Regions from separate parts of the Homo sapiens genome. Here regions 1, 2 and 3 are each linked to region 4. Evidence: fine-mapped expression QTL. A gene starts in region 4. Each other region holds a variant in brackets. All regions are shown on one strand. Distances are from middle to middle. Region 1 has its middle 340 kb from the start of LNCARSR. Region 2 overlaps TLE4 (TLE family member 4, transcriptional corepressor). Region 3 overlaps TLE4 (TLE family member 4, transcriptional corepressor). Region 4 holds the start of TLE4 (TLE family member 4, transcriptional corepressor).

The links. PIP is the estimated chance that this variant, and not a neighbour inherited with it, causes the effect.
Region 1: its variant is the best candidate, but not a certain one, in a credible set for the expression of TLE4 in fibroblasts (GENCORD, PIP 0.54).
Region 2: its variant is the best candidate, but not a certain one, in a credible set for the expression of TLE4 in whole blood (INTERVAL, PIP 0.76).
Region 3: its variant is the best candidate, but not a certain one, in a credible set for the expression of TLE4 in whole blood (TOPMed, PIP 0.52).

The regions. Positions count from the first base shown.
Region 1 is chr9:79,224,929-79,229,094 of GRCh38, forward strand. No RefSeq gene overlaps it. Among named protein-coding and RNA genes, the nearest start is that of LNCARSR, 340 kb to the right of the region's middle. The variant G/A (reference allele first, on the strand shown) is at 1,606.
Region 2 is chr9:79,598,468-79,602,633 of GRCh38, forward strand. The region is part of intron 4 of TLE4 (TLE family member 4, transcriptional corepressor); the gene reads left to right. Among named protein-coding and RNA genes, the nearest start is that of TLE4, 29 kb to the left of the region's middle. The variant C/T (reference allele first, on the strand shown) is at 2,277.
Region 3 is chr9:79,686,359-79,690,524 of GRCh38, forward strand. All of the region lies in intron 8 of TLE4 (TLE family member 4, transcriptional corepressor), which reads left to right. Among named protein-coding and RNA genes, the nearest start is that of TLE4, 120 kb to the left of the region's middle. The variant A/G (reference allele first, on the strand shown) is at 2,549.
Region 4 is chr9:79,570,380-79,574,545 of GRCh38, forward strand. TLE4 (TLE family member 4, transcriptional corepressor) reads left to right here and starts at 1,586. Exons shown (of 20, transcript NM_007005.6): 1 at 1,586-2,456; 2 at 3,310-3,407. The coding sequence starts at 2,412. RefSeq lists silencers at 58-107, 2,018-2,137, 2,198-2,357, 2,468-2,937, 2,958-3,197 and enhancers at 1,468-1,597, 1,608-1,657, 1,698-1,787, 2,515-3,127.

The DNA.
Region 1 (4,166 bases), 350 kb before region 4:
CTTCACATTTTGGTTACTTGCCAGGGCTTGTAGACATTTGGCTTTGTAATCCCTGCATAACCTCATTCTAAATATCATAAATAGATAGATAGAATAATATGCAATCAGAAAGCTCAAAATAATTTGTCTAATTTGTAATTGAGAAGCTTGCTACCAAATACAATACTAATTATTAAGCCATATGAGGCAGATATTTGGAGGCTCGCAGGAGGTCTTTCCTACTCTGATTATCATCCTACCTGTAACTCACACATGAAAGGACAGTTGAGCAGGCTCAGCTGATGAGTTGCCAAATCTATGATCTAAGGGATCTCCCTAGGAATTCATTACTGATCCACACTTAGAATTTTTAGTATAATACCCTTATGGTTCTGTCAGAAGACAATTTTCCATGAACCTGTCATGTCTCTGAATGTCCTCAGTGTGGTTTCCTTCTGGGCTATCTTTTCATAGATGTCTGGATAGCTAACAACCTTGGAAGATAGTGTCTCCTTCTGGAGCAGAGGGCAGGTTTTCATACTGCCAAGTATAATAAACAGAAAGTCTCTATCAGGAGCAAAGGGCAAGCAGGTTTGTTTATTGCATATTATAAAAAATTCAGGTTCCCTAAGCTCAGCTTTTCTCAACTGTGACATAAAAGCATAGTGTGTGCAGCATCTACCTAGAACCCTCCACATCTCCCTGCCTAGACAAAGGAAACCCATGCTTGCTGTGCAATGAGTAATAAAGTTTTTTGTCTCTGACCCAGGACTCTCATGTCTTCTGCTAGCATGTCAAAAACTGTGAAGAGTCTGAAATTTTACTCTACTTGCAAGGTAACATAAACCCACCAAAGACTTTGATAAATTTTATAAATCTTGTTTTTAAAAACTTGAACTCTACTTTACCTGAGTTAAAGAACATATTTGCCAAACCTTAAGCAATGAATAGCACTGGCACTTGGGCAACTGGTTTAAGAACCACAGAATATTTTTCCTCTCCCAGTACTATTTGTTCTGGCTTTCCTGAAGTTCACTTGGCTATAGCCTTAGTTATGCATATATTTTTTTTGATGCCAGTGAACCATAATCCTTCTTTCCCTCCCTACCCCCTCCCTCCTTCCCTTCATTCCTACTTCTTTTTTTTCTTTCTTTCTGTTTTTGAGACAGAGCCTCACTCTGTTGTCCAGGCTGGAGTGCAGTGGCACAATCTCAGCTCACTATAATCTCTGCCTCCCAGGTTCAAGTGATTCTCATACCTCAGCCTCCTAAATAGCTGGGATTACAGTTGTGTGTCACCACGTCCGGCTTATTTTTGTATTTGTAGTAGAGATGGGGCTTTGCCATGTTAGCCAGGTTGGTCTCAAACACCAGACCTCAAGTGACCCACCTGCCTTGGCCTCCCAATGTGCTGGGATTACAGGCATGAGCCACTGCGCCTGGCTTCTTCATTCCTTCTTTTCTTCCCTCCCTCCTTTCCTTCATTCCCTTCCTCCTTCTCCTTTTAAAACACTCTCTGTAGTCCATATTACTTTTTCTTTGATCTAAATTCATATAGTATTATACTCTGTTGTTGGTGGAGAAAAATAAATCATTGAGTTAGGAATGTAAGCGCGCGCGCGCGCGC[G/A]CACACACACACACACACACACACACACACACACACACAGCTCTTCCAAGCTAAGTTCTCTCTCTCATAATGAACTTTTAATTTATTTTTAAGCAGAGCATATTGTCTTGGAGAAAGGAAAAGAAAAAACTAATTTGTACTCATTTTTTTCCTTTTTTATCTGTTACCATTTATATTCTAGTAATTTCCTCAATAAATTTTGCATCTTCTGCAGATTTGGAGGGCACATGTTTCTTCTCAGAGGTTTCTATTAGAAGCAAGATGTTTTTAATCTTCAGAAAACTTTAATGCTTTGGCATAAACAGAGCAGTCTTAAAACACAACTTCAGTGTTTTCTCCCAATAGTTGTGTTTTATCAGACATACAGTGTTTTTCTGGGGATAATGCAATATCCTGAAGAAAGAATTCAGATTTAGTTGAGTTTAGTTTTGTTTCATTTTGTTCAATTCATACTTTGCGGGGCGGACAACTAATGAGTAAAGTAAGAATAATCTGTGATACAATTCTCATTACATGTTGTGATACATTTGAGTCATCATATTTGATGACCTGTTGTCAGATGTCATATGTATGTCACTGGAATCAGAGGGCCCTATGAATGTCTTTCCATAAAGTTCTGTTGTTTTCATTCAGTCCTGTTTGATACAATTTCACTGATATTACTAATTTCTTCATCTCACTCTTTCTCATAATCAGGTAATCAATTGGTCAACATAGCCAGCCAAAGCATCACAAAAAAATGCACACTAGAATAAATCTAATCCATTATGCCATAAACAGGGTTTCTGCATATTTGGTTGGACATGGGCTTTGAAGTAGGAGAAAACTGAATTCAAAATCTGGCACCCTCCCTTACCCTTTGATTTTGGACAAGTGTATTCCATCTATATGAGCCTTAATTTCTCTATTAAACATCCACCTTGCAAAGTTTGAATCAAAGATTCAAATAGAACAATGTACGAAAAGCACTTAGCCCAACTCCTGATGCAACTAGGTATTTAATCAATTTTGACTATTTTAGTCATTGTTTAGTGGGGCAAAAAGTACAAAAAGATAGCAAATGACCCTTCAAATTATTAATTGCTTTTTGCTTTCAAGAGACTTTGAGAGTCTAATTTTTACCTTTTCAAGCTATTTAATCTGTTATCAAGAAGACATTGACAAGAGACAAACTGAAAGTTTATTTTCAGCTTTCTTCCTGAGGCCACCCTATTAACAGGGGCTACAGCTGAATGCTTCTTGCTCATGAGGACTCTGACTACTGGGGTTACCACAAATCTGGGGATCCAGTGAAAGATAGTGGTGGGGTTTTCATTCATCAGCACTGAATTGGCTCTAGTTTCTTCCTGGTCTTTCTCTTGCTTATGTCTCTCGGGCTACCCAACCAAGGTCACATTCAGAGTATCATTGCTGCCCCAAAAGACTTTCACTGGAGATGTTGCCAATGACATGCTCTTCCCTAAGGCAAAGATTCTTCGATTTTTGATCAACAGTCTTCATTTGGTTCATTTGTATAAATTATTAGCTGGTGGATAAGTAATTGCAGTCTTCGCCATTACTTTTAATGGCGAAGACCACAATTATGTTTGCACCAACCTATTTTTTCTGTTTGATTTTCATCTTTTAAAATTATTTGCTTTTTAATGTTCAAAATCCAAGTATCTGAGAACTATGTACATATTCATACATTTCACCATATCAAAGTATTTATAACAAATAAGGTTTTATGTGATCTATAATTTAATGTTTTGTTTGTTTGTTTGTTTGTTTTTTGAGAAGCAGTCTCACTCTATCTCCCAGGCTGGAGTGGAATGGCGCGATCTCGGCTCACTGCAACCTCCACCTCCCGGGTTTAAGTGATTCTTCTGCCTCAGCCTCCCGAGTAGCTGGAACTAGAGGCGCCTGCCACCATGCCCGGCTAATTTTTGTATTTTTAGTAGATATGGGGTTTCACCATATTGGCCAGGATGGTCTCGAACTCCTGACTTCGTGATTTGCCTGCCTCGGCTTCCCAACGTGCTGAGATTACAGGCATGAGCCACTGTGCCTGGCCAACTGAATGTTTTAAATTATGCTGTATCTCTTAAAACACTTAAAAATAAAATCTTATGAATCACCGATTTATTAATACAAGGCAACTAACAACAAAGAGCCTAGAGAGACTTTAGGTCTCTTTCTTAAAGAAGTTCATAATTTAATAACCTCTCTGGGCTTCATTTTCTTTATCTTTAAAGTAAGGACACTGAACTTGACTTTCTCCAAGATTCCCCAAGGGAGGTTCCAAGGCTTTCTAATACAGTCATGTTATATGTTATATAACCAAGCACTCAGAGCAGTTCCTGGCCATTTGTGAGGAAGGAGAATAGGATCTGGAGGCAGGGAACCTATGACTGATTTGCACTAACTTCCTAGAACGAATCGAAAGGAAAACCCCACCTCTCCACACCAAAGTAACAAAAGGATCAGAGGCTACTCTTTTTGCACTTCATCGTAGAGGAAAAATGAAAAGTACCTCTGATTGTTTCCTTCCCACAACCAATCAGACTGGTGGCAGGCCTAGT
Region 2 (4,166 bases), 28 kb after region 4:
CTCTGCCCCTTTCTCCTTTGTGTGTCAGACTCATTTTACCCTCAGTTACTCAGGGAAATAGTCCTCTAAAAAGCATTTAAAAATACCCTGCATTCTGTATTTGTTTCAATGTCTGTCTCATTTGCTAGATTATGGACTCTGTAAGTCCTATCTTGTTCCTGTACTGTTTTTTTCAGACTATAATGCAGTATATGGCAGAGTAGCAGACAATAATCGAAAGTTATGAAATTAATATGGCTCACATTACTCTCTCCCCAAAGCCAGAAGGGTTTTCTTCCCCTCCTCACTCTTAGATTTCCAGGGCTCCTCTGTGTAGTAGCTAGGGCACTTAACACATGGCGTTTGTTATTGTGTTTATTTATATTTGATCTTCCCCCCCCAGATTATAAACACCTCGAGTTCAGATCAGTTTTGCATTCAGAACTGCTGTTTCTACCAGAGCTTCTAGTTTAGAGTAGGAGCCAGTAACTGAAAACATCTTGTTGAATTTCCTAAGTCTGAGGTGCTTTGGAAATTCATTTTGTTCCTATTCTGAAATTATCTTTCATCCTCCATCTTTCCTCTTGTGGTATGTTTTGTGGTTATAAATCTCTTCTTTCCGTCCACAACATTAAATATAATCAGTGCCAAGAGGAGGATGGAGGACAGAAATGCACTGTGGTGTCTTGACCTGTCTGGTACTTATCATAACTTTCCTAGGAATTGACCTTGATGGGCCCTTACTGCCTTCTAAATAAAGTTCAAACCCCTTAGTGTGGCATTCAAGACCTTCCATAGTCTGACCCCAGTGAACCTCTTCTGTCCTTATTTTCCACTCTATTTTTTATTGCATGCATCCTGTGCTCTAGCTTAATGGTTTTCAATCCTGCCTGCACATTAGATTCACCTGGGGAGCTTTAAAAACTGAAGCCAGGGTCCTGTCTTTGGAGATTGTGAGTTAATTCGTCTGGAGTGAGGCCTGGGTGTGGGTGTTTGTGAAAGGTCCACTAGTAATGCTGATGTAAGGCCAGGGCTAGAAACTACTGACAAGCTCAGTGTTTCCCACGGAATATCATCTCCTCTCCGAATTTTGACGAGAAAGGGTCCCAAAGTCAAAGAAGCTTGAGTAGTAATTGCTTTTAATGTGCTCCTTTCCAAAGATGTACAACGAACACTATCAAATGAAAGGCTCTAAGATACCCAACAGTAAAGAAAACTGTTTAACTTTCTTCATAGTGTGTGAGGTCGTCTGATAAGAGACACTTTTATGTATATAATACTTGTTAATAACATCTGCAACATGTGGTATAGAAAATGTTTTTAGCCACTTCTCAACTTTTGAGTCACTTCTTTTTTTGTCCTTCCCTGATCATGTCATCCAAATCAGACCCACCTCCTGCCCCAGGGCTCTCTCTTACACCCCCAATTTTGTCTTCATAGCACTTCTCAGTATCTGAAATTCCTCTTTATATACTTGTATGTTTGCTTCTGTCTCCCTCCACCTATGATGTGAGCTCCATGACCGCAGGGATTTACTTGTCTTGTTCACCCCTCTGTCTTCATTCAGCATCTACAATAGTCCTGACAAATAGTAAGTAGATATTTAATAAGTATTTGTTGAATGGGCAAAAATACACGGGCAGTAATGCATTCGTGGTTTAGGCTTTTTCTAAGGTGCATTTGTTTAAATATTTTAAATTGCCTACAGAATTTAATTTAAAAGCAACCTGAAGTACATTTTAAAAGTAACTAGGAATATAGGAACACAATAGTTTGCTTTACCTTTAATTTTCTCAACCTGCCTAGTCAAGTATTAAAAAAGAAGAAAACAAACAAAAGTGGATGTGAGCCTGATTATAGGGAAAATGCTGTTATTTTTCTGATTATAGAGAGTTTTCAGTTTGTGGTTGGGGACTTGTTTTTTCTGATTTCTCAGCCTGTCTCGGGTGGCTTCCCCCAGCCATTGAAGGAACTTGAGTGAGGAATCAGTGAATGGTAGTGGACTTTGTGTGCAGTACACCACCCCAACAACAAAAACACACAAAAACAGACAAGGAATTAATTTCAGTAAAAACTTCCTAATAATTAAAACCCTCCTACAGTGTGAGAGTATTCAGACAGGTTTGTCAGGGACAGTGGGGAGGCAGTTTGTGTATCAGAATCCGTATGTGGAATCCCAAGTTCGGTTGCCTGCTGCTCAACACGTGATGCTGCAGCAACTCTTGGACCTTGTTCAGAAGGGATTTGAATAGCCTGTTCTCTCTAGGGGTCCTCATGCTGCAGCTGTGCCCATGGCT[C/T]CCCAAGCCTGGCTCTAACTGTGTTGTTTTGAGCAGGGTTAATAAGCACGAACTCGTCTACACATTGTAGTGTGTATAATTCCTGAGCTCCACCACCACACCTTGAATTATCAGGAACTGACCTTTTACTTCCTGTGGACCTAGTGATGCCGTCGCATGAGTAGGCCCTTTCCTTGGGCTATTAAAATCATCAAGTTGGTTCACTCGAGATAACATTATAGAGATTTCTCATGAACGCTGTATACAAGGTGCTCTCCTAGGGTGCTTCTAACAAATCCATCAGTCCAGTGGGTCAGGTGATCAGCAATCTGGTATAAATAATCTCAAGAAGGAGGTTGAGCTGCATTTCCTTTATTATATTTTAAAATAATCTTTAAAACACATATTTTGCCAAGGTTTCAGATAGGAAGCTTTAATCATTTATTCACCCATCAGGAATTGTCCAGAATGAATTTGCATTTCCTTTTGTTGCACACTATGATAATTTATTATTCTTTTGAATAGCATGGTATCCTAAATGCCAGAAAAGATGTGTGATGGGAAACTAAATAAACCATATCAGAATTTAAGCAAGTTTTCTGGATAGATATTCCTTTATGGTTGATATATTAATGTGCTTTAGCTACAGGCATACCTTGTTTTACTGGGTCTTGCTTTATTGTGCTTCACAGAGACTGTTTTTCACAAATTGAAGGCTGTAGCAACCCTGAATGGAGCTGTTCTTCCAATAGCCTGTGCTCACTTCGTGTCTCTGTGTCACATTTTGGTAACTCTCACAATGTTTCAAACTTTCTTATTATTACTTTATCTGTTACATGATTTGTGGTTAGTGATCTTTGATGTTACTATTGTAATAGTTTTAGAGTGCCGTGAACTGTGCCCCCATCAGACAGCAAACTTAATTAATGTGTGTGTTCTGACTGCTTCATGCTATTCCCCCTTCTTTCCCTCTCCTCAGGCTTCCCCATTCTCTGAGACAACAGTATTGAAATTAGGCCAATTAATAACCCTACACGGGAGGGCCTCTAAGTGTACAAATGAGAGGAAGAGTCTCACATCTCTCACTTTAAATCAAAATCTAGAAATGATTAACCTTAGAGTGGAAGGCATGTCGAAAGCCAATGAGCCAAAAGCTAGGTGCGTTGTGCCCAACAGCCAAGTTATAAATGCAAGTAAAAAGAAGTTAAAGGAAATTAAAAGTGCTACTCCAGTGGTAAGAAAATGAAACAGCCTTATTGCTGAAATAGGGATAGTTTTAGTGGTCTGGATAGAAGCTCAAACCAGCCATAATATTCCCTTAAGCCAAAGCCTAATCCAGAGCAAAACCCCTCACTCTCTTCAATTCTATGAAGGCTGAGAGAGATGAGAAAGCTGCAGAAGAAAGGTTTGAAGCTAGCAGAGGTTGGTTCATTAAGTTTAATGAAAGAAACCATCTCCATAATGTGAAAGTACAAAGTGAAGCGGCAAGTACTGATGTGGAATCTGCAGCAAGTTATCTAGAAGATCTAGCTAAGATCATTGATGAAGGTGGCTACACCAAACAACAGATTTGCAGTGTGGATAAGACAGCCTTCTATTGGAAGAAGATGCCATCTAGGACTTTCATAGCTAGAGAAGAGATGTCAGTGACTGGCCTCAAATCTTCAAAGGACAGACAGACTCCCTTGTTATGTGACTAATGCAGCTGGTGACTTTAACTTGAAGCCAATGCTCATTTATCATTCCAAAAATCCTAGCGCCTCTAAGAATTATGCTAAATCTACCCTGCCTGTGTTCTATAAATGGAACTACAAAGCCTGGGTGACAGCACAGCTGTTTATAGCATGGTTTACTGAATATTTTAATCCCATTGTTGAGACCTACTGCTCAGAAAAAAAGATTTCTTTCAAA
Region 3 (4,166 bases), 120 kb after region 4:
TCTGTAATGTTGGTTTCTCTTCGGGGTTGAATTGTGTCTCAAAAAGATGTAATAAAATTCTGATCCCCGGTACCTGTGACTGTGACTTTATTTAGAAATAGGGTCTTGGCAGATGTCATCGAGTTAAGATGAGGTCATCCGGGAATCAAGTTGGCCCTGCATCCAGTGACTCATGTCCTTATAAGGAGAGAGAGGTTTGACGATACAGAGGAGGCACAGAAAGGAAGGCCATGAGAAAGCAAAGAGGAAAGACTGGAGTTGTGCTGCCACAAACCGAAGAATGCCAAGGATTGCCAGCAACCACCAGAAGCTGGAAGAGGCAAAGAAGCATTCTTCCCTGGAGCCTTTGGAGGGAGCATGGTCCTGCCAATGCCTTGTTTTCAGACTTGCAGACTCCAGAACCGCAAGAAATAAATGTCTGTTGCTTTAAGCCACCTAGTTTGTGGTGGTTTGTTGTGGCAGCCCCAGGAAACTAATAATGGCTCCCAAGAGCGAAGTTTATCTGTCAGTTGTGTTTCATCATCAGTGAAGTACTTGCTGTATGATGCTAAATCCAGTGAGCATCTACGTTTAATAAGCCCCAGAACTGTACATGTTAAAAGCTTTTAAAATTTTGTCATTTGGTATCATCTGGTCAGGTGCAGACACTGCACTTAGGCTCTGGGGATACTGTGGTGAAAACCCTGAATAAATTTCTGCCCACATGCAGCTCACATTTCACTGGGAAGACACACAGTAATTATAGATTAGCAATAATGACAGTATTGCCTCAGTTTGCGTTTATGTAGCCTACATTCTTCTTCTCCCCCGAATCGTAATTGCCCTTGGATCCAGCCGTGGGTGATGCAACGAGCTCACCATGCTCCTCACTTGCTCATGGGCTTGGGTTAGTGTTGCCATGGCCACGTACAAGTTATACAGAAGCGCAATTCACATGAATCTACGATGTTCTGGTGTTTCCTGGAGTTGTAGCATCTACATCCTGTGTGGTCATATGTGGTGGCCCCATGGGTGCCAGATTTTCTTCCTTGTCTCTCCCTTCAAAAATATCTCTCAAGTGGAGACCTCAGAGCTTTTCCTTCTCTAATCTTTTCAGAAAACAAAACAAAATAAAATTTTGTAACATTCTTTTTTCCTCGTCTTTCATTTTTATAGAACTTAAGTAGTTTTTACTTCTTACATGTTTGATAGAGTTCTCAGCCTACATCAAATATATTTGAATCCAGAATTGTCAACCCTAATGAAGCAAGTCCCTTGTCATTCCTTGGCCTCTTCCTTGCCCTTCCTTGGCCTCTTCCTTGCCCTCTTTTCTTGATGTTGCCTTACTGCTCTTTGTACAGGCTGGTTTCTTTTCACAATACACAAGTGTAATTTGCTGAGCCTCCTATAAGAGGCAGTCCTTAAAATCAGAGGCCTGTCTTCAACTATCAGCCCTTTGTGACCTTGCATGAGTTACTTCGTCCCCTAGGATTCAAGTTTCCTCCTGTTCAAAGTGAAGAGGTTGAGGTAGACAAGTGCTTCTCAAACTTTTAATGAGCGTTAAAAGCACACGATTCAGTAGGTCTGGCAGTGAGACTGGGATTCTGCATTTCTAACAAGCCCTCAGGAGATGCTGTTGGACAGTGGACCACACTTTTTTGAGTAGCAAGAGGCTAGATGATTTCTCTGGTCCCTCCCACCTAAAGATGAGAACTTCCTTCCCTTGTTCCACGTTGAGAAGGCCCACCTTGCTGGTCTTCACATTTTAATAGTCTCACCATCTCTGCACACTGTCTACCAAAGGAAAGGTCACAGTATACTTCGTGCTGTCCTATAGTGCTTATAAGGACCTGCCATCTGCAGTTCTTATTTTATAGCTTGGCCTTCTCCCCTTCAACCCCCGAAAGACTGAAAACCCACTATCTAATGCCTAATTAGAATTAGCCTTCAGGTTACATAGTTTTTGTGACTGTTTCCCTTGGTTATCTGCCATTCCTTCATTTCACAGTAATGGTAGATTTATAACAGTCCTCATAACTGATTAAATGTCTCAATTCTTTTGCTTTATGTGGCGTTCTTGGGCACTTAATTATACTACATTAAATGGTGTCTTGTTGCTGTCAGTGCAGTTGGATTGCAGTATAGATAGCATCTTTGGATATTTTTTAATATGTTCCTATCATACACTTTAAGCTTGTAAATAGAAGTGCTGAGCATGCATAAATGTGTTTTAAGAAATTATTTCTTTATTACTGTTTAGCTGAACTGATGGTGACACTAAACACTGAGGCTTTGATGTTTATACGATATTCTTCCCCACTAATTAACTGCACTAATGAAGTTAATTGTGGGGAAGAATGCCGTATAAAACATCAAAGCCTCGATGTTTAATCACAACTTAAAAAGAAGTTTTATACTCTTCAATTGCCAAATACATTCCAATTAGCTGAAGGAAGGTCAAAAATTCTGTTTTCTTCCATCTCATCTTCAGAGCTTTTCTGGTTGACCATTGGTTACTTGAGCTGCCTGAGTGTTAATCTAGACAAGCTGACAGTGGCATGTGGAGGAC[A/G]ACATATCTTCCCCCAAGCTATAAGCCAGCATAACTGAGAGACTCAGTTTCTGCAAAAGGCAGTGATGACCTCTTCTGTAATGTGTTGATGAAAAATGAATGAACTCACAGAGTAATGCATTTCTCTACCCTCTAATTTTATTATTAGCTTGACCCACTACTCCATTTTCCTATATGTTTCCATATGTTGCTCTTATAAGCCACTTCTCTAATTTCTGATAGGCATATTTCCTTGATGAATTCAGACTGCAAAACCAAGGAAATGTGTATGTGTGTGTGTGGGTATGTTTAAAGGCATAGGGCGTATGTAAGTGGAGGCTTTGCAAAGTTGATAAGAATTCTTAAATGACCAGTAGTAGAACAAGAACTCCTTCTCAGGTCAATTTCCCTGTGGTGTGTGTTACATCAATTTTTATTGTTGTTTTTTTTTTTTCTTAATCAGGCAGGGTTTACAATAGCAATAATGTAATTCAAATAAGCAATTATTGTAATTGACCTTGGCGATGAGTATCCTTGGCTTTTACCACAGTTTGCTTAATACCTGAGGATGGGCAATTATCTCATAATGCCCACTTTATTGAGATTATTGTTTTAATTATGGCACTCAAAATACATCACTTTGTCAGCATTGTAGAGTCAAGCATGGAAGCACTGCATTCAGTATTCAGAAGTGCGTAAAGAGCATCTTGCCTCATCTTATGACATGGTTATGATTGCGTTTTTTCTCTCTCCCAACTGTGGTTTTGAAATGTAGTTCATCCTGACGTGACTGGCTTATAGGGAGAGAAAGTCTGGGATTTGTTGCTGAGCTAATTGTGCTCTCAGAAAGGATGAAGGTGACTTGTGCTGATAGGTAAGCAGGTCTAGTTGATTAGGAGTGGTAATTGATAGCAATCACAGTGGCTTGTTGATTATCTGAATATGCCTTAGGTCAGAGGTTGTCAACTTTAGAATCACCTGGGAGCTTTTAAGATTGCCTGTATCCAGGCCACTTACTTAAGCCTACCCTCTCTGGACAGCGTCTGATTTAATTGTTCTGGGGTGGGTTCCAGATGGGGCTTTTTGAAAGCTCCACAGGTGATTCTTATCCCCTGACAGACCTTAGAACCACTGCCCGGTCCTTTGAATTATTTACTCCTTGCTGATTTGTCTCATTCCAACCATGACCCCATCCCAGATTTTAAGACTCCTTTTGGGGGTCCTTGTTGCTCTATACCTTACTCTTCCTCTCTTTCTTTCCAGACTTAGCCTAAGCCTAGCCACCTCACATGCACATGCTTGAAATAGCCTCAGTGCAGATTTGGGTCCTAGTAATGCTAATTCTTCCCAAGCAGTTCCAGGTCTACCCCTCCCATAGGAAGTGTCAGTGGGTAAATTTCACCTCTTCATAAACGTGAAGTGTCATTTCTTACTAATGCCTCATTATGCTCTTACAATTCAGTTTTCTCTTGGTCACATAAATATGGCTTAACCTTTATCTAAGTTTTTTGAGTAAGGATCAGAATTTATTCTTTAACATCTGTCTTAAGTACTGGGTACCACTTTGTGGAAATTTAATTCTGGTTGATTAGATCAGTAGTTATGAAGTTCCTAGTTGTTTCTCACCTTCTTTGATAAA
Region 4 (4,166 bases):
GCCTCAGCAGCCTCCCCTTGAACTGGGGCGCTGCCTCCAGCTGGACACGGACTAAGGATGGAAAGGCGCACTGACGGAGGCCGCCCCCATTTCCCAGGCCCCTCCCTAGGGGTGCCCCTCCTCAGCCATGGCTGCCCCTTTCTCTCCTCCTCCAGCATCTGCCCCTGGGGCCACCCCCACCTTTCCGCCATCTCTCGGGCCCGCGTGGCACCCTGCTCTGTTTTTAACGGGGATAAACTTGACTTGCTTCTCCAAAGAGCGGGAAAAAGAGGCGCAGTCTTGGTACTGATCTGGGGGAGGGAACGTCCCAGGGCGCGCAGGGGCGTTTTCTACCCGTGCCCCGTCGGCCTGCTCTGTTCAGTACCGACCGTGTTCGGGGTTCACGTGGCCCAGTCGGCAAAGTTTCTTTGGAGGTCCAGCGTCTCTGATTCCCGGATCTTCAGCCCCACCCGGAGCCCCCACGGTTACTGCCCCCCGCGACCCCCGATGGAGCGTCGGGATGCGCTTTCTCTCCGAGTGCCTCCGGGGGTGGAGGGAGGGAGGCCTGTTTCGGAACTAAATGGCAATCACAGCCCCCGCGGGGCTTGGAGGGACGAGCTCCCCGCCCACCCCGCGGCCCCGGCCCCAGCCAGCATCTCGCGACTCCATTTCTGGCTCTAAACAAGAACGGGGACCGAGTCGCGTTCACACGGAAAATTATGCCGGCTCCAGCGGCGCGTAAAATTGATGTGAACCGAACGAAGTAAGATCAGCGTGATCCTCCCCCTCTTGTCTCAACAGGGGTTTCGGCGCGTTACACAAGGCCGAGCTTGTCTCTTTAAGGAGACATTGGACCCTAATTAGTCCGCATTCCTGGCGCGGCTGCGGAGCGAGGGGCCGAAGGTGTCTGGGTTGGGAGACGGGTGGGCGGGAGGACGAGACTCGGAAGAAGATCTTTTGACCAGCCCCCAGGCTCACCGCTCCCTCCACCCTCTTTATTTTGCCGCCACCACCACCACCACCACCAACACCTAATTCTGAAGATGCAGCCAGGGCAGCAGCAACAGCAGCAGCCGCCGATTCTCCCAGCCCCACGTTACTTTGATTGACAGCTGAACAAATGTTTTCCCGGTTCGAACGCTCGCGCTAAGGAACGTCAGCCAAGGCGAAGCTCCGCCTTGGGCGGGCCATCTCCGCCCCGCCTCCGCCAACCTCATTCCTCTTCGTTAATTGGTCGGAGCTACAGGCGACGCCCGGCCCCCACGTGGGTTTCAGCTGGGTTGGCTCCTCCCCGCTGGCTTGCCATTTGTCAGCAGTGAAATGATGGGCACTAACACAGAACGGCGATTAATGTTCAGCCACCTCTGATTGGTTGGTGGAGACGCCTACCGCAACGGGGGTGGGCGGGGCGCTTGGAGAGCTCGCCAGAGCGCTCGCATGGCGGGCCGGTGATTGTAGTCAATCTGGCCGTATTCTCAGGCAGGGTCGCCCGGGGCGGACTACATCTCCCGGGATGCTGCGCGGCCGCCCCGCGGAAGATTGTGAATATGTATCAGAATGTTAATGATTAGCTGCTGCTAAATTTGGTCAAAGAAGTCACCTACACAGAGCGTGTTGTTAGAGCTGTGCTGAGCGGGTGTTTGGGTTGTTGGCTGCTTTCTTCCCCCTTTCTCACACACTTGTATATTATTTTGAGGTGGTGTTCGCAGAGTTTGAAAGGAGAGAGAATTAAAAAAAAAAGCCGCAAGCGTTTCACTCTTTTATTTTTATAATCCCCTTCAATTTGGGGTTAAAAAAAAGACAAGAAAACAGGAAGGAAGAGAAATAAGGAAATGAGATGTGGTAAAAGAAGCTAAAAGGTGCCTTTTAAAAGATCGTTGCTGTGAAGTGAAAAAAATCTCCAGAGAAACCAAAAAGCACCGCCGAGACCTCTTCCGAACCAAAGGAGTTTGTGTTTGCTTTTAGGGAAGAAGAAAGATCATTCATTCGGAGGAATAACAACCAATTAAAAGACAAATAAAAAAAGTTTGGAGTGGGACGCAGAGCGAGCGAGAGGAGCTGCCGGCGGGCGGTGGGGCGCGGAGCCCGCACTTTCCCGGCCGGGTGAGCGGCGGCCGCGGCGCCGGGCTCGGCGGGTGCGCCTCGGCGGAGCGAACGTCGGAGCGTTGCCTTGGGAGACGCGCGCCGGACAATGCCCGCGGCGGGCCAGTGACGCCCGCGGGGAATGCGGAGCGGCCCGGCAGCCGGCACCCAGCCGCCGCCGCGCGTTCCTGCCGCCCGTGTCACGCGAGACCCGGCGGGGGCCGGGACCGCCCGAGCCGCCCCTCAGACCGAGCCGGCCGCCTCCGCTGCCGCGGCCGCCTCCTCTTCGGGGTCATTAAAGCCAATGAGCCGCGCGCCTCTGCCGAGCGCAGCCAACTAAATCGGCTTGGATGATTCGCGACCTGAGCAAGATGTACCCGCAGACCAGACACCCAGTGAGTGCGGGCGGCGGGGCGCGGGCTCGCCGGGTGCTGGGGGATTCCCCGCGTCGCCCCCTGCGCACCGAGTTGTGTCTTTTGGCCGGAGGGGCGTGGAGAGCCGCCCGAAATCGGCGCCCCGCGCCGGGAGCAGCCCGCCCGCCATCACCCCCACCCCCCGGCGCGGTGGCCCTCGGAGGGGGTGCGGAGAGGCAATTGAGTTGTAGCCATTTTCTTATTGTTGTCTTTGAAGCCCCTGGAAGCCGCGCCGAGCCGTTTGCGGTCCCCGCGCCGCGACTCCTCGAGGGGGGGTGGCGAGCGATGAAGGAGGCGCGACTCCGCGCCCGGGCGGGGAGGGCGCCCTCGGCAGCGGCGCTGCTGGGCTGGCTGCGGTTTGGAAGTGCGGGGCGCCGGCCCCTCGCGCCGCGGGCCGCCGGGGCGAGCGGGCGAACGAACGAGCCGAGAGGGTGGCGGCCGCCTCCCTCCTCCCCCGGCCTGACCGCAGCCCGACGCCATGGCGCGGGTCCCCCCGACGGGCCAGTTTCGATTCCGGGTGAGGAGGGAGTGGGCGCGGCGCGCGGGTCCCTGGGTGCCTGTCTTTGGCCGGGGAGGGGAGACGGGACTCGAACCCTCGGGGTCCGGGGCGCGGGGGCCTGCGGGCGGGAGTATGCGGGGCCCCAGGACCACCTCGAAACCAGCCTCTGCCTGGGCTGTTGGGCGCGAGGAGGGTTGCGGGAGGAGAGTTTTAATCTCTCTTTGCTTGCGTGCGCGATGACCCTCACCCCCCGCTAACGCCGCATAGTAGGTTTTCTCCGTCTCCCTGCTTCGCCTGTGATGTGGGCTAATTAAATATTTTATTGTTGTTCTTCAGGCACCGCATCAGCCTGCTCAACCCTTTAAATTTACAATTTCCGAATCCTGTGATCGGATTAAGGAAGAGTTTCAGTTTTTACAGGCTCAATACCACAGGTAACGATATTGACTTTAGCTGATCCTTCTGTTTGCTTAGCTCTTGTCTCCCCGACAAATACACACAAACACTTACCCTCCTCCTTTTTTGTGGGGGCGTCACAAAGGTATTATTTTTTTTTCTCGGTGGGCAGAAAGGGCAAATCAAGGCCTCCTTCCTTAGGCAGGTGTAAATAAATTAAACATTTCTTCTACCGTAAATAAAAAGAAGGCAGAACAATCGAAACTGGGGAGACTTGGAAAACGCTGAGGCCAAACTTTCGATATTGATTTATTGGGGCCGGGAGAATGAAAGGTTGGGAAGATTCTGGGGCCTTTTGACATCCTTGGTTCTTTATTACTCCGGACTTGATTCCTTCTCACTTTTTTCTGCCATTCCACTGAAGAGCTGAGAGCCCAGGGAAGTCGGAGTGAGCGATTTCATTACTTTTATGCTAAAAAAAAAAAAAATGTTTTCATCTTATAGACGATTTTTAGACTTAGGGTGCCTTTGAGACATTTTTCTTTAGCTGGCTTTTTAATGATGCCTAATTCTTATTTCATAAATGCAAGAACCAAAACAAACCACTGAACCCGATTGACACTTTGCCCCTGGGTGGTGGTATTCAACTTGTCTGTGTGTTTTGGAGGGAAAAAAACAAGATATCATTCATAAGACATGCTTGATTCATATTTTCATTAATCTCTTTGTAGAACATTAAAGAAATTCCCTTGTGACGTTTTGGAGGACTTATTTGTGCTTGTATGTGCAGTCATTAT